Regions from separate parts of the Homo sapiens genome. Here all the other regions are linked to region 4. Evidence: fine-mapped expression QTL. A gene starts in region 4. Each other region holds a variant in brackets. All regions are shown on one strand. Distances are between the middles of the regions. Region 1 overlaps STAM (signal transducing adaptor molecule). Region 2 has its middle 61 kb from the start of HACD1. Region 3 overlaps STAM (signal transducing adaptor molecule). Region 4 holds the start of HACD1 (3-hydroxyacyl-CoA dehydratase 1).

Region 1 (8,207 bases), 33 kb after region 4:
CCATTCTGCAGTTAAATAATATGTCTAGAGGGCCTGCTACAGTACCTTTATGTGGTTGGCACTTACTAGATGCTACCTTTTTTGTTCCACCTTAAATGAGTGTCCTGAATCTTAGCAGTGGACAGAACCTTGGAGATCACCGATTATACTTAATGAATTGGAAAATTGCATTTAATTTAATAAGCAGTTAGCACACACTACAGGACACAGCAGCTCAGTGACATAAGAGATACAGTGATGAGCAAGGCCTAGTTGCTGTTCTCAAGCAGTTTTACATCTCACTACATGAATCTCTAGGGGAAATACTTAAAACAGCTTCTTAATACTTGCTTCTTCTGTTTACAGCACCTTTGTCTAGTTTTCTTGGTCCTGTATAATTTAGCTAGCAACTACCCAATCACCTTTATATTCTACTGACTTTGTGAACACATATTTGCATTGGATTCAGGTAAATTTCTTAATGTCAAACCCGTTCCTAGTAGCTGTACCACCCAGTTCAAACACAGGCACCTTCTTGCCTTTATGCTTTTGTCCTACGCTTATGCTTTCTTTTATCTTTCAACATATCCTTGTGTGTTAAGGCCAACTCAGAATCCAACTTGTTACACCTGAGTCATTTCCTGATTACTGTAGCAAAGGGTTTCTCAGTAGCAACGTTATTGACGGTTTGGGCCAGGTAAATATCTTTGTCATAGGAGTTTGTCCTGTGCAATGTAGGGTGTTCAGCCTTATCCCTGGCCTTTATCCACTAGATGCCGGTGACACCCAGCCCCCACTCATGATTTTAGAAGTCTCAGGACATTGCTAAATGCCCCCTGGAAGGACAAAATACCTCCCAGTTGAGAACCGCTGCACTAGTCCACTCTAATTTCCACCTTCTTACAAAATCCTCTAACTTATTTTAGCATTTTTGCCTTTACCGAATTATTTAGCATTCAAGATAGTTTTATACTCCTTAATGAGAGGTTGCTACATAGGAGGTGTTTAATAATGTTTGTTGAGTTGAGAATGTGTCAGTTGAGCCTGCCAGACATTATACTTCTTCAGTGTAGCAACATTGTTTTGCTCCAGAAAAGCTTACTTTTTAAAGTTGCTCAGGTTTTGGTATTGGACCAATTCTCTTCTCACAATCCTTGTATTGAAATATTACAAAAGGTTTATCTAAGAAGACCCCTCAGAGATTCCCAGTACATAAGCCTTGCACAGAGTCCAGTAGACTCATATTATTTTTTAATAGTATAACATATAGAATACAGTGTATAGAATACACTTAACAATTTTTTCTTTCACCATATCTACCAATGAATATGTCATAACATTAAAGTAACTCATTTGATACAGTTATTTATCACTTAACACTCGTATACATTTGCACATCTTCAAAATTAATTGTCTTCAGTCTTAATCTGAGGCTGAATCAGAAATTCACTGACTGATTTATATAATATAACATTTTTTATAAAGAGACACAATGCTGGTGATAGCTTTTCCCTTGGAAGAAACACCGAAAGATGTTACTAGAATGTGAGCTCTGTGAGGACAGGGATTTTTGTTTGATTTTTTCACTGCCGTATCCCTAGCTGTAGACCAGTTTTTGGCATGCTGAAGAACTTTCAGTAAACATTTATGGAATAAATGAATCTCATTTTGGACATTATAATTCAAGAGCTGAATTTAGAAGAAACGTAAAGATAACTTATTTCATCAAGTTTGTATTTCAAAGTCTCTAGTGACTTCCACCTTGCCAAATCCAATGGTCACTTTCTAGTCCATTTCTTTTTTGATCTCTTAAGCATTCCTCTTTGATATACAGTATTTTATTCATGGGATTTCAGGACACCAAACTTTTTCTCATTTTCTACTTAGCTCCTTTTAAATTTTTTTGCTTCCCCTTTTTGCAACTTCTAAAAGTTGAGTGCCCTGCGGCTCAGTTCCGGAGCCTCTTCTCTCCTTCCACTTTTTTTTTTCCCTTAGAGTATTAGGAAGCAATTTAGCTTAGTGTTAAGAATTCAGACTGGGGCCACACTGCTTGGATTCAGTCCCAGGTTTGCTGCTTACCGGTAGTGTGATTTTTGGCCTAGTTGCTTAGATAATCTGTGTCTCAGTTTCCTTATCTTTAATATGGAATATAAGAGTAATAATAGTTCTTACCTCAGAGAGTTGTTAAGAGGGTTGAGTTAATATTTGTAAAGCACTTAGAAAAATTTCTGTACTTTTTATTAAGTAAGATTTTAAAAAGAACCTCATCTAATTTCTTAGCTTTAAATACCTAGCGTATTCTGGTGACTCCTGGATTTATGTTCTTACTCTCAGCCTCTTGCCTGAGCTCTCGACCTAGATATCCATCTCCTTACTGAGCATCTCCATTTGGATTCTGCTTAGAGTCTAAAAACAAACATTCAAAAACTCAATTCTTAGTTCTTTGCCCAAACCTGCTCATTCCTTCATCCTTGCCCTTCTCAGTAGACGACAACATGATTACTGTTTCCTGTCACTGAGCTCCAATGTCTAGGAGTATCACTGATTCTTCTTATTTCTTCACACTTCACATTCATCCTATCAGCAAGATATTTTGGCTGTACTTTAAAAATATATCCAGAATTTCATTGACAGGTGAAACTAGCTGGACTTCCTGGGTCAAGTGGGGACTTGGAGAACTTTTCGGTCTTACAAGGGGATTGTAAAATGCACCGATCAGTGCTCTGTAAAAACGCACCAATCAGTGCTCTGTAGCTAGCTGGAGGTTTGTAAAATGCACCAATCAGTGCTCTGTAGCTAGCTAGAGGTTTGTAAAATGGACCAATTAGCACTCTGTAAAATGAACCAATCAGCAGGACATGGGCGGGGACAAATAAGAGAATAAAAGCTGGGCACCCTAGCCAGCAGCAGCAACCGGCTCGGGTCCCCTTCCATGCTGTGGAAGCTTTGTTCTTTCACTCTGCACAATAAATCTTGGTGCTGCTCACTCTTTGGGTCCGTGCTACCTTTAAGAGCTGTAACACTCACCACAAAGGTCCGTGGCTTCATTCTTGACGTCAGCGAGACCACAAACCCACCAGAGGGAACAAACTCCGGACACATCATCACCTTTTTCTGTCTCACCATTCTTACCTTACTTCAGTCATTGTTATCTCT[T/C]ATAGTCAGTGGCAAGAGCCTTCTGGTAGGTTTCTTTGTTACCACTCTTGCCTCTACAATCAGTTCTCATTTACAAAGGTCAGTGATCTTTTAAAAATGTTAGATAATGTCAGTTACCTGCTCAGAGTTCTCTGGTAGCTTCCTATCCTACTTAAAGGGAAATGCAAGTTTTTTTATTGTGGCTCACAATATGGCTTCTTCCTGTGTGTCTGATATGATTATGATCTCCAGACTCACTCTCTTGAATTCCAGGCTTCTTAAATCTGAACGCTCCAAGCTCATTCCTGCCTCTGTAGCTATATGGTACTCTTTGCCTGGGATACTCCTCACCCAGGTATTTGAAGGTCTGGATATTCATCACACCCATTCAGGACTCTGTTCAAACGTCATTTTCTGAGACGCTTTACCTAATAATCTTCTGTAAAAAATATCCTTCTTGGGCTGAATGCAGTGGCTCACGCCAGTAACCCCTACACTTTGGGAGGCTGAGGCAGGAGGATTCCTTGAGGCCAGGAATTGGAGACCAGTCTGGGCAACATAATGAGACCCTGTCTCTACAAACAATAAAAAAGTTAGCTGGCATGGTGGTATGCCTGTAGTCCCATTTACTCGGGATGCTGAATCCAGAGGATTGGTTGAGCCTGGGAGGTCAAGGCTGCAGTGAGCTATGACTGCACTCTTGCCTGGGCAAGAGAGTGAGACCCTGTCTTTAAAAAAAAAAAAAAAAGAATTAAAAAAAATGCATCTTTACCCTCTCACTCTGTTTCTTTGTTCCATTTCTTTTTCTTTATAGTACTTAGTGACCTGACATTAATTGATTGATTATCTTTTGTGTGGAATATAAACTCCATTAAGATGAGAACTTTTCATTTTTTTTCCCCTAATACTTTAGGGATAGTGTCTGGTACATAGAAAGCACTCAAGAATTATTTATCAAATAATGAATTATTGGTGTTTTTCTAGAACATTAGTCTTGTATTTCTATTTGCTGTTCTTTTTTCCCTCCAAAACAAATTCATCTGTCAGAAAACTGAAGTTATCTTTCTAAGTCTGGCTCTTCATTCATTATTTGGTAACATTTTTGTTTGTTTTTAAATCTTTTTTTACATTAATATAGATGGGGTTTTGCCATATTGGCCAGGCTGGTCTTGAACTCCTAGCCTCAAGTGATCTGCCTGCCTCAGCCTCCCAAAGTGCTGGGATTACCGATGTGAGGCACCCGGGCCCAGCCAATTTGGTAATATTTTAGTGTTGTAGTTATCTTGACTTGAAACCCAAGAGGCATCTTTGAATCATTTCCCTGCCTCTGCTAAATCATCATATGTCTTTGTTTCTATAATAGAATATTTGTGTTCCCAGTCAGACTGCTTTGGGCCAGTCCACATCCTACATACTTGGACATTTTTTTAGTCTGCTTTGCTTAGTCCAGTCAGCCTCATAAATCATAAGCTAGATGAATCTTAAATGTTAATGTCACATTCTCCTGAAGTGTGATATGATAGAAAGACCTTGGGCTTTGGGCTTAAATTGCACCTGCAGCATTTACTCTTAGTAAATGGACACAATGTATAGTTGGATAGGTATAGGACCCCTTTGAATTCACTTTCTACTTTGGTAAATAGGGATAGCAATATCCATTATACATCATGCGGATGCTATGAGGATTACTTGTGAAAACACATGACATTCTGACTCTTTACCAGAGTTGAATAGGCTTCAAATATCTCAAGTTCAGCATGTTCAAAACCATTTGAAATTTTTCTTCTCAATTATGCTTTTTGTCTGTTTTGATAGTTGGTACCTAAGTTTACTTAGTCATACAAGTCGTGAACTTGGGAGTAATTCTTGACTTCTGTAGTTGTAATTTTCTACATTCTAAACAACAAATGTATCCTGTCTACCCTGTGCCAGATACCCTGGTACCGAATATGCCCTCAAGGATTCCAGGTTTAGATCACCACTCTCTCAGATTAGTACAGTAGCTTCCAGCTGTTCTTCCCTGCTTCCAGTTTTTCCCTAGTTATTTTCCAGATGGCTGATGGTGATATTTTTAAAATGTGAATGTACGCGTGGCCCCTCCGTTTAAAATATTTCTAGAGAGGGCTGGGCGCGGTGGCTCACGCCTATAATCCCAGCACTTTGGGAGGCCGAGGTGGGCGGATTATGAGGTCAGCAGATCGAGACCATCCTGGCTAACATGGTGAAACCCCATCTCTACTAAAAATACAAAAAATTAGCCGGGCGTAGTGGCGGGCGCCTGTAGTCCCAGCTACTCAGGAGGCTGAGGCAGGAGAATAGCGTGAACCTGGGAGGCGGAGCTTGCGGTGAGCCAAGATCACACCACTGCATTCCAGCCTTGGTGACAGAGCGAGAGTCCGTCTCAAAAAAAAAAAAAAAAAAAAAAAAAAAGTTCTGAAGAATCTACCGCTTTCACAGTACTTTGAACTTTTCAGCAGGGCATGTAAGGCCTCTTATATTTGGCTTCTTTGTGACTCTTGAGCCTCACCTTCCACTTTTTTCTTGCAGGTGTATTTCACTCCTTATTGGTTTTATGCCACTGTGCTCTTCAGGTGTGGATCCTCTGGCTTGACATACCTATTTGTTCATTAATCCTCAGTAGGTTTGTTTTGAGGAGATGATGCATGTAAAGCACTTAGCATAGCACCTGGCATGTAGTAACCAATGGATACGTTTTAGCTCCTTTTATAATCAAGTTAGAAATAGATGTGGGGACTATTGGATTCTAAGGTGTGCAATCAGTTACTGTTAAAACATAGGAGAGAAATGTGAAAATTCAGAATACAAGTATGTTAACCATCTGATATCCACTGGATTAAGAACTTGTATTCTTTGATTCTTCTGTCCCTATTTTACCTCTCCTCTAAGCTGTTTTTTCTAATGCCTTTAGGTTATCATTTCTGTTTTATGTTCCTCTCTGAAATGCTTCCATGCTGTTCTTTTGATACCTACTTCTTTTTCTGGTTAGCAGAGCTTCAGATTACATTTCTTTGCAGATACAGTTTCCAGGAGGATCAGGGATATTAGATGAAAGATTTTTGAAGAATTGATTTGCAAAGAGGATAATTTCTTTCAGACTTACTTTTCCATTGGCCATTTTTAATGAACTGTTACATCTTCGGGCTGACTGAATGACAGTCCTTTCCTCACCACCTAAATGTGATGCGAAGTCCTCCTGTCAGCATTTCTTACCTCCCCAGATCTTTGACAGTGATAAATTTTGAGAAAAATCAAAAGTTGCTGCTTATCAGAAAAAGTTCTCTAATCTTTTGAAAAGACTATTGAAATTCAAATGAGGCTCTGTGTATGTTTTTTCTGGGTACTGCTGGGCAGATTTCTCAATCTCCTCTTTTTGAGTATTAGTGTAAGGATATTCTCAGGATAAAATGAGATCATTATGAAGCTTTGAATTCTTTAGAAGCAAGTCTGTTATTTTTGTCACTTTTCCTTTTCCCACAAACCCTGTTTTTGTCTTAGAAAATAAATAGTTTTGACTTCATTTGCTATTCACAGAACCATGTTGTAGGTAGTTTATATCCTTCTGATTAAAAAAAAAATACTTGTTCTTTTATAACTGAGAAGAATTGTGCCACTGATTTTGATGATTTTGAGACAGCCTCAATAAATGATGTGAACAATTTTAGATTTCTGAAGTGGGTTGTGTTTCTGATCCATCCATACAAATATGAATCAGATGCTGATTCTATTTATGTGTAGGAAAGTAATAAAGTAGTTCATGAGTTTTCAACATAATATCTGCTGATAACTGTATCATATGTTCCTGGATGTATCATTAATCAAGAACTGTAAGATAGCACTCAACTATGATAGTAGGCAATTTATATTTGATCAGATAAACTGTTAACTTTTTAATAAGTTTTAATATGCTTAGCTATTATGTTTTTGAATAAGGTGGCAGGTTTTAGAATTTAAGTGTGTTCTTTTAAAAAATGCACTTAAAAAAAAAACAACCTGCTTGGCTACCAGTCAGTGAGAATGATGAATTAATTATTAAAATGCACTACCAGACCAAAGTAATAACATGCTTTCCTTTTCTAAGATGAAGTAAGTGATATTGTTCAGAATGACTCACTCAATATTCTTGGGCTTTAGAGGGGTTGAGTACCTAGGGAGCAGGCTCTGGGACTCCTCAATCAGAGCACTTCCACTTGGGTTTGCTGTATATATTGGGTTTCTTTTAAGATAAAATTCTCTTATAGTGTTGAATGATAAATAATTTGACTAGTCTTTGTTTCCTAGGAGACAGCCTCTAAATCCTTGGAATTTTCTGAGTGATAAGAGCATCTTTGTTATTTTTGGTGGGCCCCTGGGATAATAGCTTAGTTTATGCTAATAAGATGACTTGGTCTGGGGGCTGGCCACTCCAGAAGGACTAACCATGTGATTAAAGGATTTGGGCTTTGAGTCATAGGACCTCCTGGGAAGGATAGGGACCTGGAGATTAAGTTCCACTGTGTGGTCCTATTTCATAAATCATACCTATATAATGACACCCCAATTGTAGAATCCATGAAGGTACATTTCCCAGTCCATCGAAACCTACACTGAAAAACCGAATATTCCGCGATAAAAACTGGAAACAAGCTATTTGTGAAAATGCTTTGTGATGTGTGGATTCATCTCACAGAGTTAAATGTTTGTTTTGGTAAAACAGGTTGTTTTGATAAAACAGGATAAAAACTCTGAACACTGAAGCTCAGTTAAGCATTCTGGTAGGTGATACACATTGTGGTGATACACACTGATGTATTTGGAGGGTGATGAAGCTTCCTAGCACAGAAGCTTTATGTTTGGAACCCTCCCAGATCTAGCTCCATACAGGTGGTTGTTTGTATCTGGGGGTCTGCATTCATGGATTCAAACAACAGTGGATCAAAACTTGTAGAGGAAAAAATATCATGTCTGTACCGAACACATAGAGACATTTTTCTTGTCATTATGCCCTATACAGTATAGTTATTTACATAACATTTACATTGAATTAGGCATGATAAGTGATCTAGAGAAATTAAAGTATATAGGAGGATGTGCAA
Region 2 (8,207 bases), 61 kb before region 4:
AGATGATGTCTACTGCTTGGTATGTGGAGGGAAAAAGCATTCCGTCACAGAAATCTTCTGTGTTGAAGATTGTTGTGGTGTGAGGGTGGAGGAAAAGCACGGTGAGAGAGAGTTTTCCCTACACGAGGCCTTCCCAGGAGACTGCACATGGAGGGAAGGATCCTGTGCAGAATTCTGGGGAGGAGGGTAGGCTGGATCAACAACAAAAGCAGTAGAGAGACTGAGAAGGGAAAAAGAAGAGATTGATAAAGGAGGGGATTTTTAGTGCCTGCCGCAAAAGGAAAATCTGGGGAAGTGAGAGGTAGCTAAGTAGAATGTTTAGGAATTCTTCTGTGTGCGATGCTGAATGAAACTACTAAAAAGGAAACTTACAAGAAAAACCTATGCTATTCTCAAGACTTTTGGAGTCAGACTGCAGCTACCATTGCCTTTCTGTTCCTTCTTCCTTTTTATGAAATACAGGCCTACATCACCTGGGGCCAAAATGAGGGTTTCTTTCATTTTGTTTCAGATTTTCTAAGATTTTGTTTTCCTCTTCTCAGTGTTTTTCAAACAAATCCCTTCCTTTCCACCATGACTCGAATCTTCTTTATCTTACAACTGCATGTTACAAAGGCTTAATTTGCTTCTCTCATGGTTATCCTGAACATGATCACCATATTAATATCAAATGTTGGCTGCGCACAGTGGCACATGCCTGTACACCAAGCGCTTTGGGCGGCCGAGGCAGGTGAATTGCTTGAGCCCAGGAGTTCAAACCAGCCTGGGCAACATGGCAAAACCCCATCCTATGAAAACATTCAGAAATTAGCCGGGTGTGGTGGTGTGTGCCTGTAGTCCCAGGCACCTGGGAGGCTAAGATGGGAGGATCGCTTGACCACCGGAGGTGGAGGCTACAGTGTGTCGTGATTGTGCCACCACTGCACTCCAGCCTGTGCAACAGAGTGAAATTCTATCTCTAAATATATGTGTGTATGTATAATATATATAAATATGTATATATGTATACATGTGTGTAATATATACTTGTAAAAATATATGTGTGTATATATGTTTACACATATATACACACATATATTTTGTATATACATATATAGTTTTATATATGTATATATGTATATATAATGTAATATCTGCATTTAATTCTCTCTCAAAAATTCTCAATAGCCTCGTTTAAATTCTTCAGCCTAGATCCAAGACTCTTTAGAATTGAAACCTGTAAATTATTCAACAGCGTCTGCCAAGACTGTGGGGACAGATCTGCAGATCAGCTAACATCCTCTCTAACCCCATCGCCCTCTTCCCATTCCCCACCCTACAACTCACAAGACAGTCCCACCACCACACTCCTGCTCATACCATTTCAATCTGGAATTTCATCCCATTGCAATCCTATGCTTTTTTTCAGGACAAAAATCAAATGAAATGTTTTCTTAACTTTTTTTAGCCCATAATTAGCATGCTGTTCTCCAAATGATTATCTATTTCACACACTTGTGTCAGTAAATAGAGTGTAATTGGCTGCAAGCTCAATAAGAAGAGGCAGTTGATACATGTAACAAAATAAAAAGTGAGTTAGTCGCTACTCTTGCACCTCTCAGTTATAAAATAGTGCAGGAATCTCGGTGAAGAATGACGTTATTACATTTCCCAAGCGGCATTTCAGTGGGGGTCTGGTTCTTGGTATGAGATGTCTGTCCTTGTCCTTAGATATCTTGATGGTCTTTACTAACAAGAGCTATAAGATGAATGGGATAGAAAAAGAAGAGGGCTTATTTTGGTAGAATGCAGTCCTCGCCTTTGCAAAACCAAGGGCACAACCCTCAAAACAGTTGAATTTATGGTTATATGGGCCAGGTGCTATGGCTCATACCTGTAATCCCAGCACTTGAAGAGACTGAGGTGGGAGGACTGCACAAAGTCAGGAGTTCAAGACCAGCCTGGGCAACATGACAAGACTGTAGCTCTACAAAAAATAATTTTTAATATTAAAAAATTTATAGTTATGTGGGTAACAGGATGAATTGGCGTCTCACTCACTGGGCCACATAAGTACTGCTAGAGTAGGGAAAAAAGCCTGGTATGGCCAGGCAGAGAAGACATAGAGACGGAGAACCCACCATACCTAACATCACCACCACCACATCCTCCACCTCTCCCTCCATCTCTGTCTCACGTTGGCTTCCCCAAAGTCATAGATCCAGGGCTAAGAGGAGTAAATAATGAAAGTGGGGATTGCATGTTTCCTGGCAATACTTTCATTAAAGGACAGAGAAGAATGTGCATCAGAGAAATTCAGTCTAGTGCTATCAGCTGCAGGCTGGTTGGAAATACAGGCAAATCTCCAGTGACGTGACCAACAACTAGGGGATACAGGGAAGGAAGACTGAGCTCTTCAACCGCGTGAGTTCCAGACTGAGTCTGCAGGCAGTTAATGAGATCAGTGGGTTTGGCCAACAGAGAAGACAGAAACCTTACCATCACCAAAGTAGGGTTTCTTATATAAGGGGACGACAAAAAGGGGAGAGCCAGCCAGCTCTCTATTAGCAGTGACATAAGGACGTGACTTTTATCCTTGTGATGGTTATACTGAGTGTCAACTTGATTGGATTGAAGGATATAAAGTATTGATCCTGGGTGTGTCTGTAAGGGTGTTGCCAAAAGAGATTAACATTTGAGTCAGTGGGCTGGGAAACGCAGACCCATCCTTAATCTGGTAGGCACCATCTGATCAGTTGCCAGTGAATATTAAACAGGAAGAAAAATGTGAAAAGGAGAGAGACTGGCTAGGCCTCCCAGCCTACATCTTTCTCCTGTGCTGGATGCTTGCTGTCTTTGAACATCAGACTCCAAGTTCTTCAGTTTTGAGACTCAGACTAGCTCTCCTTACTCCTCAGCTTGCAGACAGCCTATTGTGGGATCTTGTGATCATGTAAGTTAATACTTAATAAACTCCCATATAATATATGATATATAATATATGTCACATATCATATATGATATAGATATATGTCACATACCATATATGATATATAATATATGTCACATACCATATATGATATATAATATATGTCACATATCATATATGATATATAATATATGTCACACATCATATATCATCTATTATATATCATATATCATATAATATTATATATCATATATCATATATGATATGATATATATTATATAAAATATATATTAAATATATATATTTATGTTTATATTAAATAACATATTTAATAATATATATGATATATGACATATTTAATAATATATAATATAATATATTTAATATACATAGATCCTCTAGAGGGACAGAACTGATATATCTATATTATAGATTATATATGGTAATATGTATAATAGATAATAGATATTACATATTATCAGTTCTGTCCCTCTAGAGAATCTATATATATGATATATATATATATATCAGTTCTGTCCCTCTAGAGAATCTATATATATGATATATATATATATATATATATATCAGTTCTGTCACTCTAGAGAATATATATAATATTATGATATATATAAAAATATATACATCAGTTATATATATTATATATATTCTGTCCCTCTAGAAACGACAAATACAGTCCCCCTCTTTGTCTCCTCTCCACATCAATAGCACAATACTACAGTGAGACATTCCCAAATCCTCCATCCTGGAATCCTAGTGTCTCAAAAACAGAGGTATAGCGGCCACATTACAGAAATGAACAGTCTCATCCTGTGAATCACTGGTAAGAACATATGTGGAATATTGTTCTTAGTCCTGCGCATCAGATGTTAAGACATTTTTAAAAACTGAAGTGTGTAAAAAAATTGTGTAAAGTATAAATTAGATACAATAGTGTCTCAAAATAATTTCCTAAAGAATATTTAAAGAAACCAACCAGACACAGTGGCTCATGCCTATAATCTCAGCAGTTTGGGAGGCTGAGGTGGGCAGATAGCTTTAACCTAAGAGTTTAAGACCAGCCTGGGCAACATGGTGAAACCCCATCTCTACAAAATATACAAAAAATACAAAAATTAACTAGCTATGATGGCATACAACTGTAGTCCCAGCTACTAGGGAGGCTGAGGTGGGAGGATTGCTTGAGCCCAGGAGTTCAAGGCTGCAGTGAGCCATGACTCCACCACTGCACTCCACCCTGGACAACAGAGCAAGACCTGTCTCCAAAAATATATATATGTATAAAATATATATTTTATATATATATTTATACATATATATACTATATATATATACACACACACACACACACACACACACACATATATACTATATATATATTTAGGCTGGGAGCCGTGGCTCACGCCTGTAATCTCAACACTTTGGGAGGCCAAAGTGGGTGGATCACCTGAGGTC[G/A]GGAGTTCGAGACCAGCCTGGCCAACATGGTAAAACTCTGTCTCTACTAAAAATACAAAATATTAGCCGGACGTAGTGGTGCATGTCTGTAATCCCAGCTGCTCAGGAGACTGAGGCGCAGGAGAATTGGTTGAACCTGGGAGATGGAAGTTGCACTGAGCCGAGATTGCACCACTGCACTCCAGCTTGGGCAACAGAGCAAGGCTCTGTCTAAAAACAAACAAACAAAAAAGAATATTTAAAGAAACTGATTGTCTTTAACCTGAAGGAATAGGTAAATGTCTTTAGACATTTGAAGAGATGCCATGTGGAAAAATTAGACTTATTCTCTGTGGTTTTAGAAAGCAGACAAGGAGTAAATGTGTGAAAGTTACAGGGATGCAAATTTTGTCTTAATAGTGGGAATGGATGAACGTTCAAAAAAGTGAGGATGGCCTGCCCCAAAATGGATGGTGCCATCACTTGACATATTTGTGCAGGGGCTGTATATTAATCCACTAGGGCTGTTGTTGAGGAAAGCTCAGCACTGGAGCGAAACTGAAGCAAATGATCTTCAAGTTCCACCTCCCATTCCACTTCTAAGATTTATATTTAATGATTTCTTATGTCGCCCAATTTTTAACTCGGTTTCTGTTTGTTAATTCTTATGTATGTAAATCTTGTTCTCTCATTTGATAGAAATCATCTGCCAGGAAAACGGTCTGTATATATGGTGCATAATGACAGGCATACCTAAGATGATCATTACATAATCAGGTCCCTAGGATTATTATCTTGTGATCAGAAAAAACTTTTAAGAACATCTGGTCTTATCCTGGCCAACATAGAGAAACCCCATCTCTACTAAAAACACAAAAATAAGCTGGGCATAGTAGCACGCGCCTGTAATCCTAGCTATTCAGAGGCTGAGGCAGGAGAATCTCTTGAACGCAGGAGGTGGAAGTTGCAGTGAGCTGAGATTGCACCACTGTACTCCAGCCTGGGTGACAGAACAAGACTCCGTATAAAAAAAAAAAAAAGAACATCTAGTCCCCTCTTCTGATATTTAAACTTCCGCTACATTATTTCTCCCAAATGATCCTCCTCTTTCCCCCGCTACTTGAATACCTTCATTGATGGTGAACTCACTAACTCACAGGAGCTCCATACCATTTTTAGGACAACTTGACCACAAATTTCACTGTCTCAGTGATCTGTTACTGAGTAACAAACCACACCTAGAATTAATGTCTTAAAATAACAGTGATCTTTATCTGTGGATTGGCTAGGTGGTCCCCCACTGGTTTTGCCTGGGCTCAATTAGGTGGCTGCTTTCAACTGAGGGACGATCTGAGCTGGAAGATCCAAGATGGCCTCACGTGCCTGACTGACAGATGTCACTGGCTATTGCCTAGAGCTCTTTGTTTCTCTCTCATGTGACCTCTCATCCTCCTCCACACTAGCCTGACTTCATTATATATCTTAGGACAGAATTCTAAAAAAAATGAAGGCAGAAACTCAACAGCCTCTTGACACCTAAGCTCTAGGTTGCGTACACATCACTTCCACCATATTCTTTCAGTTAAACCACAAGGGTGATCCAGACGCACAGGGATGAAGAAAAAGACCCCACTTCTGAAAGGAAGGGACGGGAAACCCACACATATGTGTGAGGACATACATAACAGGAGGGGTGAAATGTGACCCTGTTACACAATCTAAAGTATTTCAAGAAGGCTGGGCGTGGTGGCTCACGCCTGTAATCCAGCAAATCCCAGCACTTTGGGAGGCCGAGGTGCGTAGATCACCTAAGGTCAAGAGTTCAAGACCAGCCTGGCCAACATGGTAAAACCCCGTCTCTATTAATAATACAAAAATTAGCCGGGTGTGGTGGCGGGTGCCTGTAATCCCAGCTACTCGGGAGGCTGAGTCAGGAGAATCGCTTGAACCCAGGAGGCAGAGGTTGTAGTGAGCTGAGATCACGCCACTGTACTCCAGCCTGGAGGGGACAGAGCGAGACTCTGTCTCAAAATAAATAAATAAATAAATAAAATGAAGTAAAATAAACAAATAAAGTATTCAAAGAAATTATACAGAAGTCTTCCTGCCTCTAACTCTTCCTATGATAGGTCCTTGAACCTCTGTCTTGGTCTGTTTCCTATTGCTTATAACAGAATACCTGAAACTGTGTAATTTATAAAGAAAAGGAATTATCTTTTACAGTTATGGAAGCTAAGAATCCAACATCAAGGAGCCACATCTGGCAAAGTCTTTTTTTTAATTGAGATAAAATATACACCTATAATTTACCATCCTTACTATTTCTAAGTGTATAGTTCAGTGGTAAGAAATACATTGATGGCTGTTGTGATACCTCGGTTCTTGCCTTCTTAGTTTAAAAGAATTTAAACAAGAGACTGGGCGCGGTGGCTCACGTCTGTAATCCCAGCACTTTGGGAGGCCGAGGTGGGCAGATCACTAGTCAGGAGTTCCAGACCAGCCTGGCCAATATGGTGACACCCCGTCTCTACTAAAATTACAAAAATTAGCTCGGTGTGGTGGTGCGTGCCTGTAGTCCCAGGTACTCGGGAGGCTGAGGCAGAATTGCTTGAACCCGGGACACGGAGGTTTCAGTCAGCCGAGATTGCATCACTGCATCCCAGCCTGGGTGGCAGAGCAAGATTCCGTCTCAGAAAAAAAAAAAAAAAAAAAAAAAGAATTTAAACAAGAGACATACAGTGTAGGGCATGCAGCATAGAGTAATTTATTGCAAAGGAAAAAGAATATTTTGAAAGTTAGGTACAGAATAGACAGTACATCCTCAGGGAGAGAGGATTCAGGGCAAGCTGCTCATAAGGACGAGACAGCAAAGACCGTTACTAGGGAAAGGGAGTCTTACATGATTATTCATGAGGGAGTGGGAAGAGGCGTTGCTAGTAAGCATGTTCTGGGTGGTCTTCTGGGTGCACATGTACAGTAGCTGTACATGCTTCTTCATACATCATATGTCTCATTAGCATCTTAAATCTCCACACTGGGGTGTGTTTTTTACTATTATAATGATCAAAGGGTGAGTTTGAGGACAGGTAAAATCAAAATATGTGTGCACTCTCGAGGAGAAAGTCCCTACTGAAGATAACTTTGCTTGAATGAGCTCAACTACAATGCAAATGCTGAGGCTTATTGTGTTGACTGTACAGTCACCACGGTTGCTACGTCCCAAGAACGTGGTCATTTCCTTGACTACCCATCTTGCCTCAAATACATTTTTTGTTTTTAGATGGAGTCTCGCTCTGTCGCCCAGGCTGGAATCAAGTGGCATTTTCTCAGCTCACTGCAACCTCCGCCTTCCCGGCTCAAGCAATTATCCTGCCTCAGCTTCTCCAGTAGCTGAGATTACAGGCACGCGCCACCATGCCTGGCTAATTTTTGTATTTTTAGGTGAGATGGGGTTTCACCGTGTCAGCCAGGCTGGTCTCGAACTCCTGACCTCAAGTAATCTGCCTGCCTCGGCCTCCCAAAGTGCTGGGATTACAGGCATGAGCCACCGCACCCAGCCATGCCTCAGAAACATTTATATCCTTATTTTTCCCTTCATCCCCTTTCCCTACTCCTTCCTGGCCTCTGGTAACCACAAGTCTGCTCCCTATCTTCATGAGTTGCACTGTTTTTAGCTCCCATACATGAGTGAGAACATGAGCATCTGCTTTTCTGTGCCTGGCTTATTTCACTTAACATAATGGCCTCCAGTTCCATCCATGTTGCTGCAAATGACAAGATTTCATTCTTATTTATGAAATAAAATTCCATAATGATATTCCATTGTGTATATATACTACATTTTCTT
Region 3 (8,207 bases), 82 kb after region 4:
TTTGCTTTTTTATTATGATTTTTACTTTGTAATGGCTTTTGAAAAATATTGTTCCCTACCTCAAGGTCCTAAAAGATAGTTTTCTGTATTGACTTTTAGTAGCTTTAAAGTTTTGTTTTCGTATTGTTTCTTTTATTACTCTAAAACAAGAGCGGAAGAGCAGAAAGGGTTCTGTGTTGAATTGAAAGCAGGATAATCAATGCACTGATATTACATTTCAGAGCCTGAGTGACATATGGTGATGGTCTGCACTTGGGAAGTAGTGGTGGAGATAGAGACACGTTTGAGATCTATTTTGGAGGATTTGTTAGGTTGAGTCTTTAGACTGGTAAGAATTACCCTTGGAGCAATAAAATCTCGATTCTCCAAGATTGCCTTTAAGGCTTTGATTTATTAAGTCTGCAGTGAAGCTTGATATTCTTGACTTTCCAGGCAGTTTTGATGATTATTTTGAAAAAAAGGTCAAGGAAAATATCTGCAGCTAAAAAAGAAAAGTAGATTTAAGAGTTTGTATTTTTTATTACCCAGAATAATTTACATTGTATTTGTTCAGTAAAAATAGGAGTTTTCATGCTGTTCCAATTTTGTTAATTTATTTTTAAACTTTCAGTTGTGAATGAATGAATAAACTGACAAAATGATTTTTGTTCAATGTATCAGGATATGTTCTAGTTTCTAACTATACTATTGAAGGAAGAATACCTTTTATCTTGATGTCTTTTTCTACTTCTTCAGACTGTTGGATATAATAACATTTTGGGTCTTTAAAAACTCATTGTTTTCTAGCCATTGAGTTGTCTCTCAAGGAACAAAGGCAGCAGTCAACCACCCTTTCCACTTTGTATCCAAGCACATCCAGTCTCTTAACTAACCACCAACATGAAGGCCGAAAAGTTCGTGCTATATATGACTTTGAAGCTGCTGAAGACAATGAACTTACTTTTAAAGCTGGAGAAATTATTACAGTTCTTGATGACAGGTAATGTTAATATTACATTTAAAATTTGTATGAAAGTGTGTATGGCTTCTGTGTTTCATATTATTCCTGTTGATTGCAGTTACCAAATACAATAATAAATATTGACCCAGATGCTGCTCTGTATGACAGTTGGCTGATTTGCTTGTGTTATACTGGGTGGATTCTTATTTTGTTGTTTAATTTTTTTCTTATTTATTACTTAGTTTATAATTTGTTTTGGAGGCCTAGTTTAATCTATTCATTTTCGGTTCCACCTAATAATATAGATGGTTACATTATTTAAAAGGTTACAGTTTTAGAAAAACACTGAGTATGTATATGTACTTAATGCAATTTGTAAGAAATATATAATCTATTGAGTTTTTTTTACACAGAACAGTATAGCCATAGGGAACAAATTTATTTTGTATGGAATTACACATTTATTCAGGAGGTGATACAGTGCATCAGTTTATTTTTTTACTATAGCTTTGTGATGTTTTACTTGAAAATGAATTGTTACTGATGCTTGTTACTGATAATGAAGTATTAAAATTTGCAGGTGTTTTTTAAAAATCAGTTCAAATTGATTTAAAGTTCTTCCTGTAGTGTCTCTCTTACTTACTGCCTTAGTCCATTTGGGCTGCCGTAACAAACTACCGTAGACTAACTGGTTTATAAACAACAGGAATTTATTTCTCACAGACAGATTGACTGTGTGTTGAAGGCCCACTTTCTGGTTTGTAGAAGGCTGTCATTTTGCTGTGTCCTCCCATGGCAGCAGGGGCAAATGAGCCCTCTGGGGTCTCTTTTATAAGGTCGCTAATCTCATTCATGACTTAATCGCTTTCCAAAGTCCCCACCTTCTGATACCATTGCTTTGGGGGTTAGGATTTCAACCTGTGAATTTTGGGAAGACACAAACATTCAGACATATTTTAACATTTTTTTTTTTTTGAGTGGAAGAAAATAAAGTTTGAGCTGGTTAGCTGGAAATTGCCCAAAACCTTACGTCTGTTCTTTCAAAAACATGTATTGAGTGCTTGCTAGCTTTCCATATACTAGAGTTTACACCTAGGAGTGTACTCTTTGCGAATGTTTTGCACTGTGAACAGTGTCATCTTTGACATTCGTTCTGTTGGGAGAAAAAAAAAACCTTGCTGCTGTGTACCAGAAAGAGCAATGATTTAGGAATGGAGACTGAAAATAAGAGCCTGTCTTTATAGCTCATTACAAAGACTTCTTACTCTGGAGCCTGTGAACCATCTGAAGCTGACAATTTTTTCGTATTGGTGCCTCTTTTTTTGGGAGAGAGTCCATAACTGCAGAGCATGCATTGGCAGTCAAGAAGATAAACAACTGTGTGTTGAATAGCTTCTTACCTTTTCTGAGGCTTCTTCTTCTTTTGTAATAAAGGAAGATTCATTGGCTTTTTCAGTGGGTTATTGTGAGATTCAAATTTTGTAATAGTGTAAGTTGAATACTACAAAAGATAAAGATGTACAGAAATAAATACATTTGTTATGGTAAAGCATTGTTTTTTGTTTGTCATAGTGATCCTAACTGGTGGAAAGGTGAAACCCATCAAGGCATAGGGTTATTTCCTTCTAATTTTGTGACTGCAGATCTCACTGCTGAACCAGAAATGAGTAAGTATTTTCCAGCCTGCCAATAAATGATGTTTTCTAATCCTTTTCTTAATGGAAGTTGAGTAAACTGAACTTTTTAGAGCAGTGTTGCCCAGGCTGGAGTGCAGTGGTGCGAGCTCGGATCATTGCAACCTCCGCCTCCTGGGTTCAGGTGATTCTCCTGCCTCAGCCTCCTGAGTAGCTGGGATTACAGGCACCCGCCGCCATGTCCAGCTGTTTTTGTGTGTGTATGTATTTTTAGTAGAGACAGGGTTTCACCATGTTGGCCAGGCTGGTCTTGAACTCCTGACCTCAGGTGATCCACCCGCCTCAGTCTCCCAAAGTGGTGGGATTACAGGCGTGAGCCATCGCACCTGGCCTAACTTTTCTTTTTCATATGTATCTATGTAGAGGTCATTGTAAAAATGCAAATTCATTAAGAAGTCTTACAGAATTTATACATTATATATTTTTCTTACCAGTTGATTACAGTGTGACAAGTACAGTATAACCTCAGGGAGGATTTTTCTTGTTCAAAGGTTGGGACCGTTTCTCTAGTGTGTAGTCCCAGACTTGAAAGCAGTGTTCTCCAAGCAACATGTCAGATATTCAGAAGGAGCCATTTTTACTAATCATATAAAAGTTTTTTGTTTGATTTACAAACCCTGCTGAGTAGGATAATAAACTAGAAAGTGGGGCCGTGGAGAAAAAGTGATACTAGTGGCAGGCTTAACAGTTTCAGGAGACATAGCTACATAGTCGGTCAAAGTAGTGAGAGACAGTTTACTATATTTCTACATAATATTGTGCTTTAATGAATCTTCATAATGATGAGTTTAGTCATCAAGCAAAGTTTAAGTCATAATCTCCCCTCTAGGAAAACAGAAAAATATGTTCAAATCTAGAAAGATTTGTATTTGTAATAAAATATTTAAAATTTTTAAAGAGCTTATAT[G/A]TATAGGTTGATATGCTACAGTTATTTGGCAAAATATCTCATTATCGTTTTTTAATGCTAGATAGAAGGGATCAAAGAAAATTACAAACCACAAGATGCTTAGGTGTTTTTTAGTTTATAAGAATTTTAAGAAAAAAAATCTTTGTCCTGGTCATCTTTTTATTTCCAGCAGCTCCTAATAGTGAGTCTTATAATACATACTACATATTTATAGAATAAATGATACAGAAATATATATGTTAACAATAAAGAGATACTTCACTTCTCTTTCAAGAGAAGGCTTGAACAGCAAACCAGAAATTACAGATCTTTAAGAAAATGGTGCGCTCTCATAGTTATTGCCAGGGTGTCTGGTGTCATTTTTATAGAGACAGATTGGTGAGACCCAGTCTTTCAATGATGTTTTCTATGTCTGTGAGAATTCAAAAACATGTCAACCTTGTTTAAATGGCATTGCGTAGTGTGCTGACTTTTTAATAACCTGGGCTGGTAATGATGTTTTGTTTGTTTTTGGACTATTTTTTTGTCCTGAATCAGTTCCTGGAGAGGATAGAATTGCTTGGAGTTCTGTTCAAGATAAGGTCAAGGATCTCATGTAGATCCTGGAGCCATTTCATCTTTTTTTTTTTTTAAGTCATATAGCAATGCAGCTTCAATATGAGTTTTCTAGTTTTTCTCATGTTTTTCACTCTGGACGATCTAAAAGAGAAACTGAAGCATCAGAGCCTATGTAGTGGGGTTGTAGTTCTCAAGCGTGGAGAACAGGTGCAGGTGCTAGCATGATCCCCAGAGCATCATTCTTTTGAGGAAATAGAAGTCTATTTCACTTAGCCTGTCAAAGAGAAATAGCTGCCCTATTTAGCTTGCTTTTGGTTTGGAGATACAGTAAAATATTGTGAAATCCCTTTGTTATATATTGTATATAAATAATATATTTTTTTACACACACATAGTATTAGTTCCTGTGAGAAAAGGGGTTGCAAACTTGCGCGTCAAGAGCTGTTAGAATATGAAGTCTGCCATGTTTTTCTTATGGGTAATGGCCAATGCAGTGCTATCCCAGCTTTCTACTTGTAATAGCTCAAGATATAAAAAGCAAAATGTCTGCAGCAGATGTTTCTTTTCCTTTATAGGAAAATGAATCAGCTGTAGAATTTTGCTTTTGGTGACTTGAATGGAATGATTATATTTCTTAGGTTGGAAATTAAGCTATTTCTGTGTTATACAGAAGCACACAACACGGAGTACCCAAGTGATTGGACTTCATGTTCTCGGGGTAAAATCACTGGCACAGGCCAGATTTCAGTAGTATGGGCTAGTAGAGCAAGATAGATTGGCATTCAAATCCAGGCTTTGTCATTTATTAGCTTTCTCTTTTACAAAAGTTTTTAATCTTTCCAAACTACCTTATTTATAAAAAGGGCATATCTCATAAGATTGGGAGATTCATTGGAGGAAATGTAATATTCCATCAAGCATATTCAATAGTTTAATAAACATTATTTCCCTTCCTTAAATTGCCCCCTCCTGTCTTCCTTTCCATCATGATTCTTAATATTTTTATGAATTGATTGACCACATTGATGCAAGGATTAAAAATATAGAAAGGAAGTTTGTTTAGTAGAGTTGTATATGCCTTTCAGTAGTATTTGGAGGTTGTTATATAGCTACTGTTATGTTAAATTGTTTTTAAAGATTGCTTTGGTGAGTAGGAGAAATCTGTGCTTCTGGCCAATGAATTGTTGATCCCTCAATGACCACTTTTTAATGTCAAATGATAATATTATATAACTAGAAAATACAGGCTGATTTGTTGGAAGACTGAGACCCCTGTCAAGGCCACCTGCAAAGTTCTCCACTGGCATGGACGGCGCTCTCTAAACGCCTACGTGGCACGCCAGATAATACATAGCTGATTTTCCCATTCATTACATTGGAGTAGTGTGGATTTTCTGTCAAACCAGATTTTTTTTTTCTACCAAATGAGATTTTTTCTTGAAGGATTAGTAATTTAAAAAGAGGGTTTATTTTAAATTGCAGAATTCACTTAGGCCATTGTAAAACTTTGCTTTTGTCCTCCAGCTTACTAAACTCTGATGTGTAGTAGGTGATTAACCTTTTTTCAGAAATACAACTCTTATTATTAGTGAAATCTCTTTTTATGGAAACTGTAAAATGTTTACAAGAGAAAATTAAGAAATCCAATTTCATAAAGTAATGTTGTGTTATTACTGCCAAAATCTGCAACTCAGTTATTTCTTAAATTGCGCCTTTTAGCTTGCTGGGAGTATAAGAAAAATCCCCAAATCTCTCTTGGAAGTTAAAGTGCTTTAAAGTAGAATTTTAAATGTATTATTAAAAAAAGATAACTTTTACATATCTTACAGTTAAAACAGAGAAGAAGACGGTACAATTTAGTGATGATGTTCAGGTAGAGACAATAGAACCAGAGCCGGAACCAGCCTTTATTGATGAAGTAAGTGGTTTCCATGGTGATAGGAGTTGGTACTTTGTATTGAAATTTAAATGGTTTTGCTTTAAGAAAAAATTGATTACTTGAGTTTTTTTGTTGTAAAAATTTTTGTATTTTTTTATAAAAATTCAAGCAATATAGACGATGCAGACTGTTTTTTGAAACTTCCTCTCCAGTCCTTTGTTTGCCGTGCCAGAGCCTCATTATTTTAAATTCCTGCTGAATATTCTGTAGAGTGGCCTTACCATGATTTATTTAATCTATTGTTGAATGCCTAGGTTGTTTACAGTTTTTACAGTGTAGTAGTGAGATTTTTTTTTTTTTTGAACATCTATCTTTGTGTTTCTTTAGGGTAGATATTCAGGAGTGAAACTATTGAGTTGAAGGATTTGTGTATTTTCCATGTTAATAGATAATGTCAAATTGTTGAGCAAAACAAGTTTTTACACTCGTATTCATATCATGCGAGAACTCCTGTTTCCCAGCATACTCAACAAGGATATTAAGATTGTTTGCACATGACTGAGGAAGGGACACTCATTGACTATCTATTGAAACAAATAAATTACTGTTGTAAAAATAAAATTGTCATTAAATTACTTCTACATAAATCATTGCATAAAAGCAGTGCTAATATATTGAATATCATTGGAGATGATTCATGATTCCTCCTTGTGTTGAACACTTTCTAGTATTTGAGGAAAAGCTTACGCTAATTTTATATTAAATGTCTTCATATGTCATTGTCACACCTGAAACAATGTATATTTTTAGTAATTATGCTCAAAAATATAATATCAACTTGGTGACACACCATACTTTTTGGAGCCACATAATGGTACCCAAATTGGTATTATTGGGATTTAAATTTGAGATTTCTTGAATTAAGTTAATCACTCCTATTTAGTTAAGTTTTATAGAAATATCTGCTGTTACTGCATATAAAGAAAAGATTAAAACTGGCTACCTTTTTCATCTTTAAGCGTGTTTATGAAAAAATAAAAAGTATGTTTGTGGTTGTCTTTTTCTACTCAAACTTATTACCATGTTTTAAAAATAACATTAACAACTGTTGAGTTAATAATACATTAAATTATGCAACTAGCAAACCATTAAGGATTTTTGAAGTGTCACATTGTATAGATCAGGAGTTGGCAAACTCTTAGGCCAAATTTAGCCTGTTGCCTGTTTATTGGAACACAGATAAATTTGTTTATATATTGTTTGGCTGCTTTTGTGCTGCAGTGGAAGAATTGAGTAGTAGCAACAGAGATCATATGGCCTGCAAAGCCTGAAATATTTACTGGCGGGCCATTACAGAAAAAGTTTGCTTGGCCCTTGGTATGGATAATTTAAAGAGAATCTTTTCCGATCCTCAGTTACCATAGCATTCTTTCCTAAAATTGATCTGCCCGAGAACATTCTCTCCTACCATTTTCGTTTTTACCCCCCTCCTCTCCCTTTTCAATTCTTCTCTCCAACTTTACGGAAGAAAGGCTTACCGCTTGCCCGTAGTGAAGATTACTGTGGTACATTGCCTCAGAGTATAAGAATTACCAGGGATGATTTCATATACTGGTTTTGGTATTAAGAAAGTCATGGCTCTAATGACTAGTTAACACAGCTGAGATGGTTCCATATTTTTTGTTTTTAAAAAATAGGACCAAAATGAATTTTCAGCTAGTAGATCATTAAAAATAATTTTTAATGACAGACCACTGTCATTCCATTCCATCTTTCAGAAGATACCGAAAGAACTTAATGAAATTGCTATAATAGCTTGATTATATGAACAAAATTTCTCCTCACTTTCAACTATAAAAACAAAAAATAGGAATAGAACTGGTGCTGAATCCTGGCTCATTTTACTTTTCAAAACTTGAAATATAGTTAATGTTGTTTTGACCCTTTGCATATTAATAATAATAATCATTACCTTATACATATGAATGAATCTAATACTGAGAGTATTATCAGTTTACATACTTTTAGTGCAAAGAAATCCCATATGGTCATCGGTAGAAAACTTTCAAGTATATTAGGATAAAATTTTGGAGGGGAAATTGAGTAGAAATATGATAAGTTCAAGGAAAAAAACAATTTGAAATACATGACAGAGACTGTTGTTTGAATGGTAATGGTGAGTGCAGATTGCTGTGGTGTTTAAATTCCTTTGGCTATATTTAAAGGAAT
Region 4 (8,207 bases):
TCTAATGGAGATGACAGACAATAAGCATTGCGAATAAGTAAAATATATTGTACAATCATATGAAAGAAAGTGGGATGGAGAAAAATAAACAGGCAAGGGAGATAAGGAGTATGTGTTTCACTATTCAAATTAAGATGACCAGGTAAGGCCTCCTTGAGAATGAAGTTTTGAGTAAAAACTTGGAAGAGGGGGCCGGGCGCGGTGGCTCATGCCTGTAATCCCAGCACTTTGGGAGGGCGAGGCGGGCGGATCACGATGTCAGGAGATCAAGACCAACCTGGCCAACACGGTGAAATCCCGTATCTACTAAAAATCCAAAAAAAATTAGCCGGGCGTGGTGGCGGGCGCCAGTAGTCCCAGCTACTCAGGAGACTGAGGCAGGAGAATGGCGAGAATCCGGGAGGCGGAACTTGCAGTGAGCCGAGATCTCCCCACTGCACTCCAGCTGGGTGATAGAGCAAGACTCCGTCTCAAAAAAAAAAAAACAAAAACAAAAACAAAAAAACTTGGAAGAGGTCAAATATTCATATGAAAGATAAAAAGAAAATGAAAGTGTGTGATAGGCTGATAAAATAACAAGCTGTATTTTACATTTATGTAAAATTTTATAATATTTCTTAAATACTATTCCGTTGCTTTGCAATTTGGGGTGTGTGTGTGTGTGTGTGTGTGTGTGTGTGTGTGTGTGTGTGTGTGTGTTTTGTTTTTGAGATGGGGTCTCGCTTTGCTGCCCAGGCTGGTCTTAAACTACTGGACTCAAGCAATCCTCCTGCCTCAGTCTCCTGAGTAGCTGGGATTACAGGTGCATACCACTGTTCCCCACTTGTTTTGAAAATTATTACAAAAAAATTAATAAACACGCCAAAGTTCTGTTAACAGAGAAATAAGTTAAATGAACAAAAAGAGCCTCAACTAGTCTTCTGCTGTCCACCCTATAAAACGTGTAAGTTCTTGTCCCGATTTCAACACTACAACTTCTTCAACCTTATTTACCACTATTCCCCAACAGCACCCTCCAGTTCAATCAAGAGAATACATCAGGCTTGCATATCATGCCTATTTCCAGAATTTATATCACCTGAAATGTCTACTCTCTATGTATGCAAATCTTATTCCTTCTTCAAATCTCACCGCCTCTAGAAAGCATCTGAAGAGTCAGTTACAGAGATTATTCCATTTCAATATCCCTTATTTTTGTAAATATGACAAGGAAACTTCTCAGTAGAGGCAGAAGGAGACAAGTTTAGAACAAGCCCTGATTTGCCGGGGAAGGGTCAGAGGGACAGAATGGAGAAAGCATTTAATTCTGCACCAGGTAAGGCAGGAGACCCGGAAAACTTCAAAGAGGTAGATTTGATTAGAAGTCATGGGAATAACAGGAGAACATTATACAAAAGTGAAAAACCTGAGCACAGAAGCAGAGCGCTGTGAAAATACATGGTGCTTTGAGGGACGAGTGAGTCAGAGATATCAAATGCAAGTTGACTGGAAAGGGGAATCGGGAGCAGATTGCAAAAAGCCTTGAATGGCAGATAGCCTGAATCCCTTAGATCAGGGTGGAGGTGGCAGGGAGTCACTGAAGTCTTTAAACTGGAGCTATGCATTGATGTTCATTTTTGAAATATCAGTTGGCTTTCAAGACAGAGAGTCAACTGAAAAGAGAAAGGACAGACACCCAGTTAACACAAGGCAGATATTTCAAAATGTTCACTGGCTGGGCACGGTGGCTCACACCTGTAATCCCAGCACTTTGGGAAGCCATTGTGGGAGGATCACTTGAGAACATCCTGGGCAATATAGCAAAAACCTGTCTTTACAGAAATTATTATTATTATTGTTTTATTTTTTTGTGTGAGACAGAGTGCAGACTGGAGTGCAGTGGCACGATCTCTCAGCCTCCTGGGTTCAAGCGATTATCGTGCCTCAGCCTTCCAAGCAGCTGAGATTACAGGCCTGTGCCACCATGCCCGGCTAATTTTTGTATTTTTAATAGAGACGGGGTTTTGCCATGTTGGCTAGGCTGGTCTCAGGCGATCCACCCGCCTCAGCCTCCCAAAGTGCTGGGATTACAGACGTGAGCCACCGTGCTCGGCCTACTCTACAAAAAAATTTTCAAATTAGCTGAGGATGGTGGTGTGCGCCTGTAGTCCCAGCTACTCAGGAGGCTGAGGCAGGAGGATTGCTTTGAGCTTCGGGGTTGGGGCTGTAGTAAGCACCACTGCACTCCAGCCTGGAAAACAGAGCAAGGGCTTGGCTTAACAAAAGAAAAAAAAAGGAAATAACAAGGAAACGTTTATTTTATTTTATTTTATTTTATTTTTTGAGACGGAGTCTCACTCTGTCGCCCATGCTGGAGTGCAGTGGCGCGATCTCGGCTCACTGCAAGCTCCCTCTCCCGGGTTCACGCCATTCTCCTGCCTCAGCCTCCGGAGTAGCTGGGACTATAGGCGCCCGCCATGGCGCCCGGCTAATTTTTTGTATTTTTAGTAGAGACGGGGTTTCGCCGTGTTAGCCAAGATGTTCTCGATCTCCTGACCTCGTGATCCGCCCACCTCGGCCTTCCAAAGTGCTGGGATTACAGGCGTGAGCCACCGCGCCCGGCTCCGGAAACGTTTATTAACCAGACTATCACAGAGGTGAGAGAATTCTTTCAGTTCCGAATGCATTTAAAGGCAGCATCATTTCGTGATTGCTGAATTGTTGTAAATACATTAGTTTTCTCACTTTCCAAGAGTATAATTTAGGAGGAAAGAAAGATGAAGTAGCAGGACAGTGGAGTCAGAGAGTCCGGGTTGAAACCCATGTCTGACTGACACTTGCTGGCTGTGATCTTGGGCAAGTATCTGTGCCTCACTCTTCTAATCTATATAATGTAATATCATGTGCCCCTCACAGGACTTTAAAGGACTAAAAATACACCTAAAATAACCAACACAGTCCCCTGCATAGTAAGTCCTCAGTAAATAACATTTGTATGAACTGTATTTGGCATTCAATATCATATGCTAAGCACATAATAGAAACTCAATCACCATAGGTAAAGATTTATTAAATTTTTGTCAATCACATTTTTCTATAAACCCTGGAGAAAGTTTAAAATATTAAGCCGGAAGTGGTAATCCCAGCACTTTTGGAGGTTGAGGTGGGAGGATTGCTTGAGGCCGGGAGTTTGAGACCAGCCTAGCCAACACAGTGAGAGGCCATCTCTATTTTTAAAAAATTAAAATAAAATATTAGGCCCGGTGCGATGGCTCACACCTGTAATCCCAGCACATTGGGAGGCCGAAGTGGGGGAATCATTTGAGGTCAGGAGTTCGAGACCACCCTGGCCAACATGGTGATACCCTGTCTCTACCAAAAATACAAAAATTAATGGGGCGTGGTGGCCCACGCTTGTAGTCCCAGCTACTCCGGAGGCCGAGGCAGGAGAATCGCTTGAACTCCGGAGGCTGAGGTTGGCAGTGAGCGGAGATCGCGCCAATGCACTCCAGCCTGGGCGACAGAATGAGTCTCCGTCTAAAAAATAAAATAAAATACTGTCAGGGCGGGATGGCTCACGCTTGTAATCCCAGCACTTTGGGAGGCCGAGGCGGGCGGATCATGAGGTCAGGAGATGGAGACCATCCTGGCTAACATGGTGAAACCCCGTCTCTACTAAAAATACAAAAAAATTAGCCAGGCGTGGTGGCGGGCGCCTGTAGTCCCAGCTACTCGGGAGGCTGAGGCAGAAGAAAGGCATGAACCCGGGAGGCGGAGCTTGTAGTGAGCCGAGATCCCGCCACTGCACTCCAGCCAAGACCGAGCGAGACTCCGTCTCAAAATAAATAAATAAATAATAAAAAGAAAAAAAGAAAATAGTAAACTTTTCCTCGCGTTTACATAAGTTAATACTTCGAGTGATAATGGGAAAATAACTTTTTTAAAAGGCAGTGCAATTGAGAAATGGAAAAGCATTTTCCCAACAGGTTTTGAGAAGCAGTTGACACAAAAGTCACTTTGAGAGCTCTGCGAAGAGCGACAGTCATTGTGTAACCTTAACTTGCAAAGTCATACTCAAAGCCAAAAATCAAGGTCCAGCTTATCAGCCACGGAGCCTGAGGCCATAAAGATGCTGGGCAGGAGCTCCACGCTGGGATAAGTGGGGTGGTTATTTCAAAATCGTCCCAAGTGACAAGCTCTAGGACGTGCTGTGCTTTAAAAAAAAAAAAAAAAAAAAGTCGCGGTGAAATTAACAGGGGCGAAAACTCTGCCCAGCGATCGCAGCATGAAGCTCTGCGCTCCCGAGACCATCGAGTGGCCAGGGCTGGGCGCTCCTTCAACAGCAGCGAAGGCAGCGGCGCCGGGGCAGCAGCCACCTCCCCCGCGGGCCGGCACCGCATTCCTGCCCGGTTCTATACTTAACCTCCGGCCAGCGCCCCGCCGTGCACCGTATTAGGCAATGCCAGGCGCGCAGGGCCCGGCCCCCCCGCCCGCTCCATTCAACCCCGGCGGTGGCCGCGGCGACAGCTCCCTTCCCCCACGGCCGCTGCCCGCACCCCCCGCGCCCCTTACACCCCGGCCCGCGCCCCCTGAACCCGGAACCTCCGCGGACCGCGGCGCGGGGAGGGCCCGAGGGTGCCCCGCGGCGCGCGTACCCCGCGGTCATGGCGATGTCGTAGAAGGTGAGCCAGGCGGTGGCCAAGACCCCCAGGCGCCTCCGCTCGCCGGGAGCCTCCCGGTCCTCGCCGGCCTCCGAGGCGCCGCCGTTGGTGCCGTCCTCGTCGCTGGACGCCATGGTGGCCGCGCACCTGGGGGACGTGGGAGACAGCGGCAGGAGCGTGGGAGGGGACCCTGCCCAGCCTGCAGCCCGAGAGCCGCTGCCCGCTGCCGCCGCTTCCGTCAGGCGCCCCATGTGCAGCGCGCAGGGGGCTCGGCGCAGCCAGCTCTACCGACCGCGAGGGGGAGGAGCGGACGCCCCCGGCCACCGCCCGTCACGCCCCCGCCCCGCCCCGCCCCTTGGGAGCGCGCGCCACTCGGGGGCCAGAACGCCTGGCCCTGGCACTGGGGATCCAGGACCCGCGAGCCCCGGCACGCTTTCCAGGCGGCGCTGTAGTTTCCGCTCCCGAGGAAAGTGCACCCGCCTCGCTAGCTGCGGGCGCCTCTTCATAGAGAGACGCCCAGACGCCTTGCGCCCTGGCGATGCGCACCCTGCGAGTGCATTTAGTGGGGACACAGGGAACGCACCTGAACTTGGCGTGGCTCTGCCCTGCCTGGCCTTTTGTAAGGCAGTTTCTCAATACGCAGGCAGGGAGCGGGATCTTCCCGCCACTCATTCTTTTCTTTTTAGAGATGCGGTCTCAGTCTGTCTCCTAGGCTGGAGGGCAGTGACGTGAACATAGCTCACTGCAATTTCGTGAGCTCAAGCAATCTTCCCACCTCTGCCTTCCAAAGTTCTGTGATTACAAGCCTGAGCCACAGCGCTGGGCCAAACATTCATTCATTCTTAAGAGCTTCTGGGGAAGAAACGCCTATTTCGCCCTGTTTCCCGTTTACTAGCGAGTCCAACAGGTCTTCCAACAGTGAGAAGACCGTCCCACTTGAGTGATTTTTTTTTCCTTTTTCATTTCTTATTTTTTTTTTTTTTTACAGTCTGGAGTGCAGTGTTGTGATCTCGGCTCACTGCAACCTCCGCCTCCCTGATTCAAGAGATTCTCCTGCCTCAGCCTCCCGAGTAGCTGGAACTACAGTCATGCACCACCACGCCCGGCTAATTTTTGTTATTTTTAGTAGAGACGGTTTCACCACGTTTGCCAGGCTGGTCCCGAACTCCTGGCCTCAAGTGATCCACCCGCCTTGGCTTCCCAAAGTGCTGGGATTACAGGCGTGAGCCACCGCACCCGGCCTCACTTGTGTGAATTTTACCGGAGCGTGTGTGTGTGTGTGTGTGTGTGTCTGTGTGTCTGTGTGTCTGTGTGTGTGTCTATTTACCAAGTGTCAGGCCTCTGAGCCCAAGCTAAGCCATTATATCCCCTGTGACCTGCACGTATACATCCAGATGGCCTAAAGTAACTGAAGAATCACTAAAGAAGTGTGGCCGGTTCCTGCCTTAACTGATGACATTACCTTTTGAAATTCCTTGCACCTACTGAAATACAACCCCCAAATTCCTGAATCCTCCCATTTTATTAGCTGTGTGAACTTGGACAACGTAACCTATCCATGCCTCAGTTTCCTTAGTGGAAATAATTTTTAAAAATCGTGAGCAGAGATCGCCCGTTGCACTCCAGCCTGGACGACAGAGTGAGACTCTGTCTCAAAAAAATAAAAAAAAAAGGAAAGGAAGGCTGGGTGTGGTGGCTCACCCCTGTAATCCTAGCACTTTGGGAGGCCGAGGTAGGCAGATCACTTGAGGTCAGGAGTTTGAGGCCAGCCTGACTAACATGGTGAAACCCCGTCTCTACTAAAAATACAAAAATTAGCGGGGCATGGTGGCGGGCGCCTGTAATCCCAGCTACTCAGGAGTTGAGGCAGGAGAATCGCTTGAACCCAGGAGGCACAGGTTGCAGTGATTTGAGATCGCCCCATTGCACTCCAGCCTGGGTGACAGAGCGAGACTTCTTTTCGAAAAAGAATAAAAATAAAATAAAGGGAAGAAAGAAGTAAAACTGTTTGCAAATGAGAGCAATGTGTTTCCTAGAAAATCCCAGGAATCTCGAGGAATCCTAAAAAAAAAAAACCTCCTGGAACTACAAGATCAACATAACAAAAATCAATTGTTTTTCTACATGTGTACACGGAACAACTGGAAAATGAAATTTAAAATAAACCATACAACGTTAATCAGCATCCAAAAACATGAACTATATAGGCATAAATTTCACAAAATATGTGTGAGACGTATACACTGAAAATTATAAATCATTGCTCAAAACTATAAATCTCTGCTGAGAGAAATGAAAGATCTAAATAAATAGCTGTTGCCTGTTCATGAATTGGAAGACTCCATACTGTTAAATGTCAATTCTCTCCAAATCCCAGCAGATTTTTTTTTAACTTGACAAGCTAACTATAAAATTCATGCAGAGGTACATAGGAAGAAGAAAGTTGGAGCACATATACATCTGGTTTAAAGACTTACTATAAAACTAGTTTTCAACACACTGTGGTACACATAAGGTGAGACATAGAAATCAGTGAAACAGAATCAAGTCCAGGGATAGACCCATATGTATGTGGTCAATTGATTTTTATAAGAAGCTAAGGTAATTTCCATGTGGAAAATATAATCTTTTCAGTAAATGAAATGACTGGATACCCATATCAAAAAATAAATCTTACCTCACACCATAGATAAATATTAAGTTGAAATGAATGACAGACCTAATCATGAAGCTATAATTACATAATTTCTAAGAAAATACAGAACAATCTTTGTGACTTTGGGGAAGGTGAAGATTTTGGAGGTAGAAAAAAGCACTAATCATAAAAAGGAAATAAAAGACAGATTGAACTTCATCAAAATGGGAAACATCTGTGTTTTCAAGACAACATTAAAAAAGTGAAAATATTCACGACAGATGTCTCTAACAAGGAATTTGTATCTGGAACATATAATGAAAGCTTACAACTTAATAAAACAATTCAATTTTTTGAAATGAGCAAAAGATTTGAATACACACTTCACAAAGATATAGAAATGGCCAATAGCCGGCCAGGCACTGTGGCTCACGCCTGTAATCTCAGCATTTGGGGAGGCTAAGGCAGGCGGATCACCTGAGGTCAGGAGTTTGAGACCACCTTGGTCAACATGGCAAAACTCCGTCTCTACTAAAAATACAAAAATTAGCTGGGCGTAGTGGCACGCCCCTGTAATCCCAGCTACTTGGGAGTCTGAGGCAGGAGAATCACTTGAACCTGGGAGGCGGAGGTTGCAGTGAGCCGAGATGGCACCACTGCACTCCAGCCTGGGCTACAAGAGCAAAACTCCATCTCAAAAAAAAAAAGTAAAAAAGAAATGCCCAATAGCACATGCAAAAGTGCTGAATCTTATTAGTCATTTGGGAAATGCAAATTAAACCCACAATGAGATAGCACCACACAACCACTCAAGTGGCTAATATTTTAAAATGTTAGCAGGGATTGGCATTCTCATACAAGGCTAAAAAGAATACTGCTTTGGAATATAATTTGGCAATTTCTTACATCAATATACACTTACTTAGCATATG

Evidence for each region.
Region 1: its variant is fine-mapped to the expression of HACD1 in whole blood (INTERVAL, PIP 0.90).
Region 2: its variant is fine-mapped to the expression of HACD1 in whole blood (INTERVAL, PIP 0.92).
Region 3: its variant is fine-mapped to the expression of HACD1 in lung (TOPMed, PIP above 0.99).

Annotation. Positions count from the first base shown.
Region 1 is chr10:17,645,548-17,653,754 of GRCh38, forward strand. The region is part of intron 1 of STAM (signal transducing adaptor molecule); the gene reads left to right. Among named protein-coding and RNA genes, the nearest start is that of STAM, 5.5 kb to the left of the region's middle. The variant T/C (reference allele first, on the strand shown) is at 3,136.
Region 2 is chr10:17,551,929-17,560,135 of GRCh38, forward strand. No RefSeq gene overlaps it. Among named protein-coding and RNA genes, the nearest start is that of HACD1, 61 kb to the right of the region's middle. The variant G/A (reference allele first, on the strand shown) is at 4,382.
Region 3 is chr10:17,694,263-17,702,469 of GRCh38, forward strand. It overlaps STAM (signal transducing adaptor molecule), which reads left to right. Exons shown (of 14, transcript NM_003473.4): 7 at 787-979; 8 at 2,513-2,607; 9 at 5,929-6,017. Among named protein-coding and RNA genes, the nearest start is that of TMEM236, 54 kb to the right of the region's middle. The variant G/A (reference allele first, on the strand shown) is at 3,542.
Region 4 is chr10:17,612,449-17,620,655 of GRCh38, forward strand. HACD1 (3-hydroxyacyl-CoA dehydratase 1) reads right to left here and starts at 4,926. Exons shown (of 7, transcript NM_014241.4): 1 at 4,635-4,926. The coding sequence starts at 4,891. RefSeq lists a silencer at 4,467-5,126.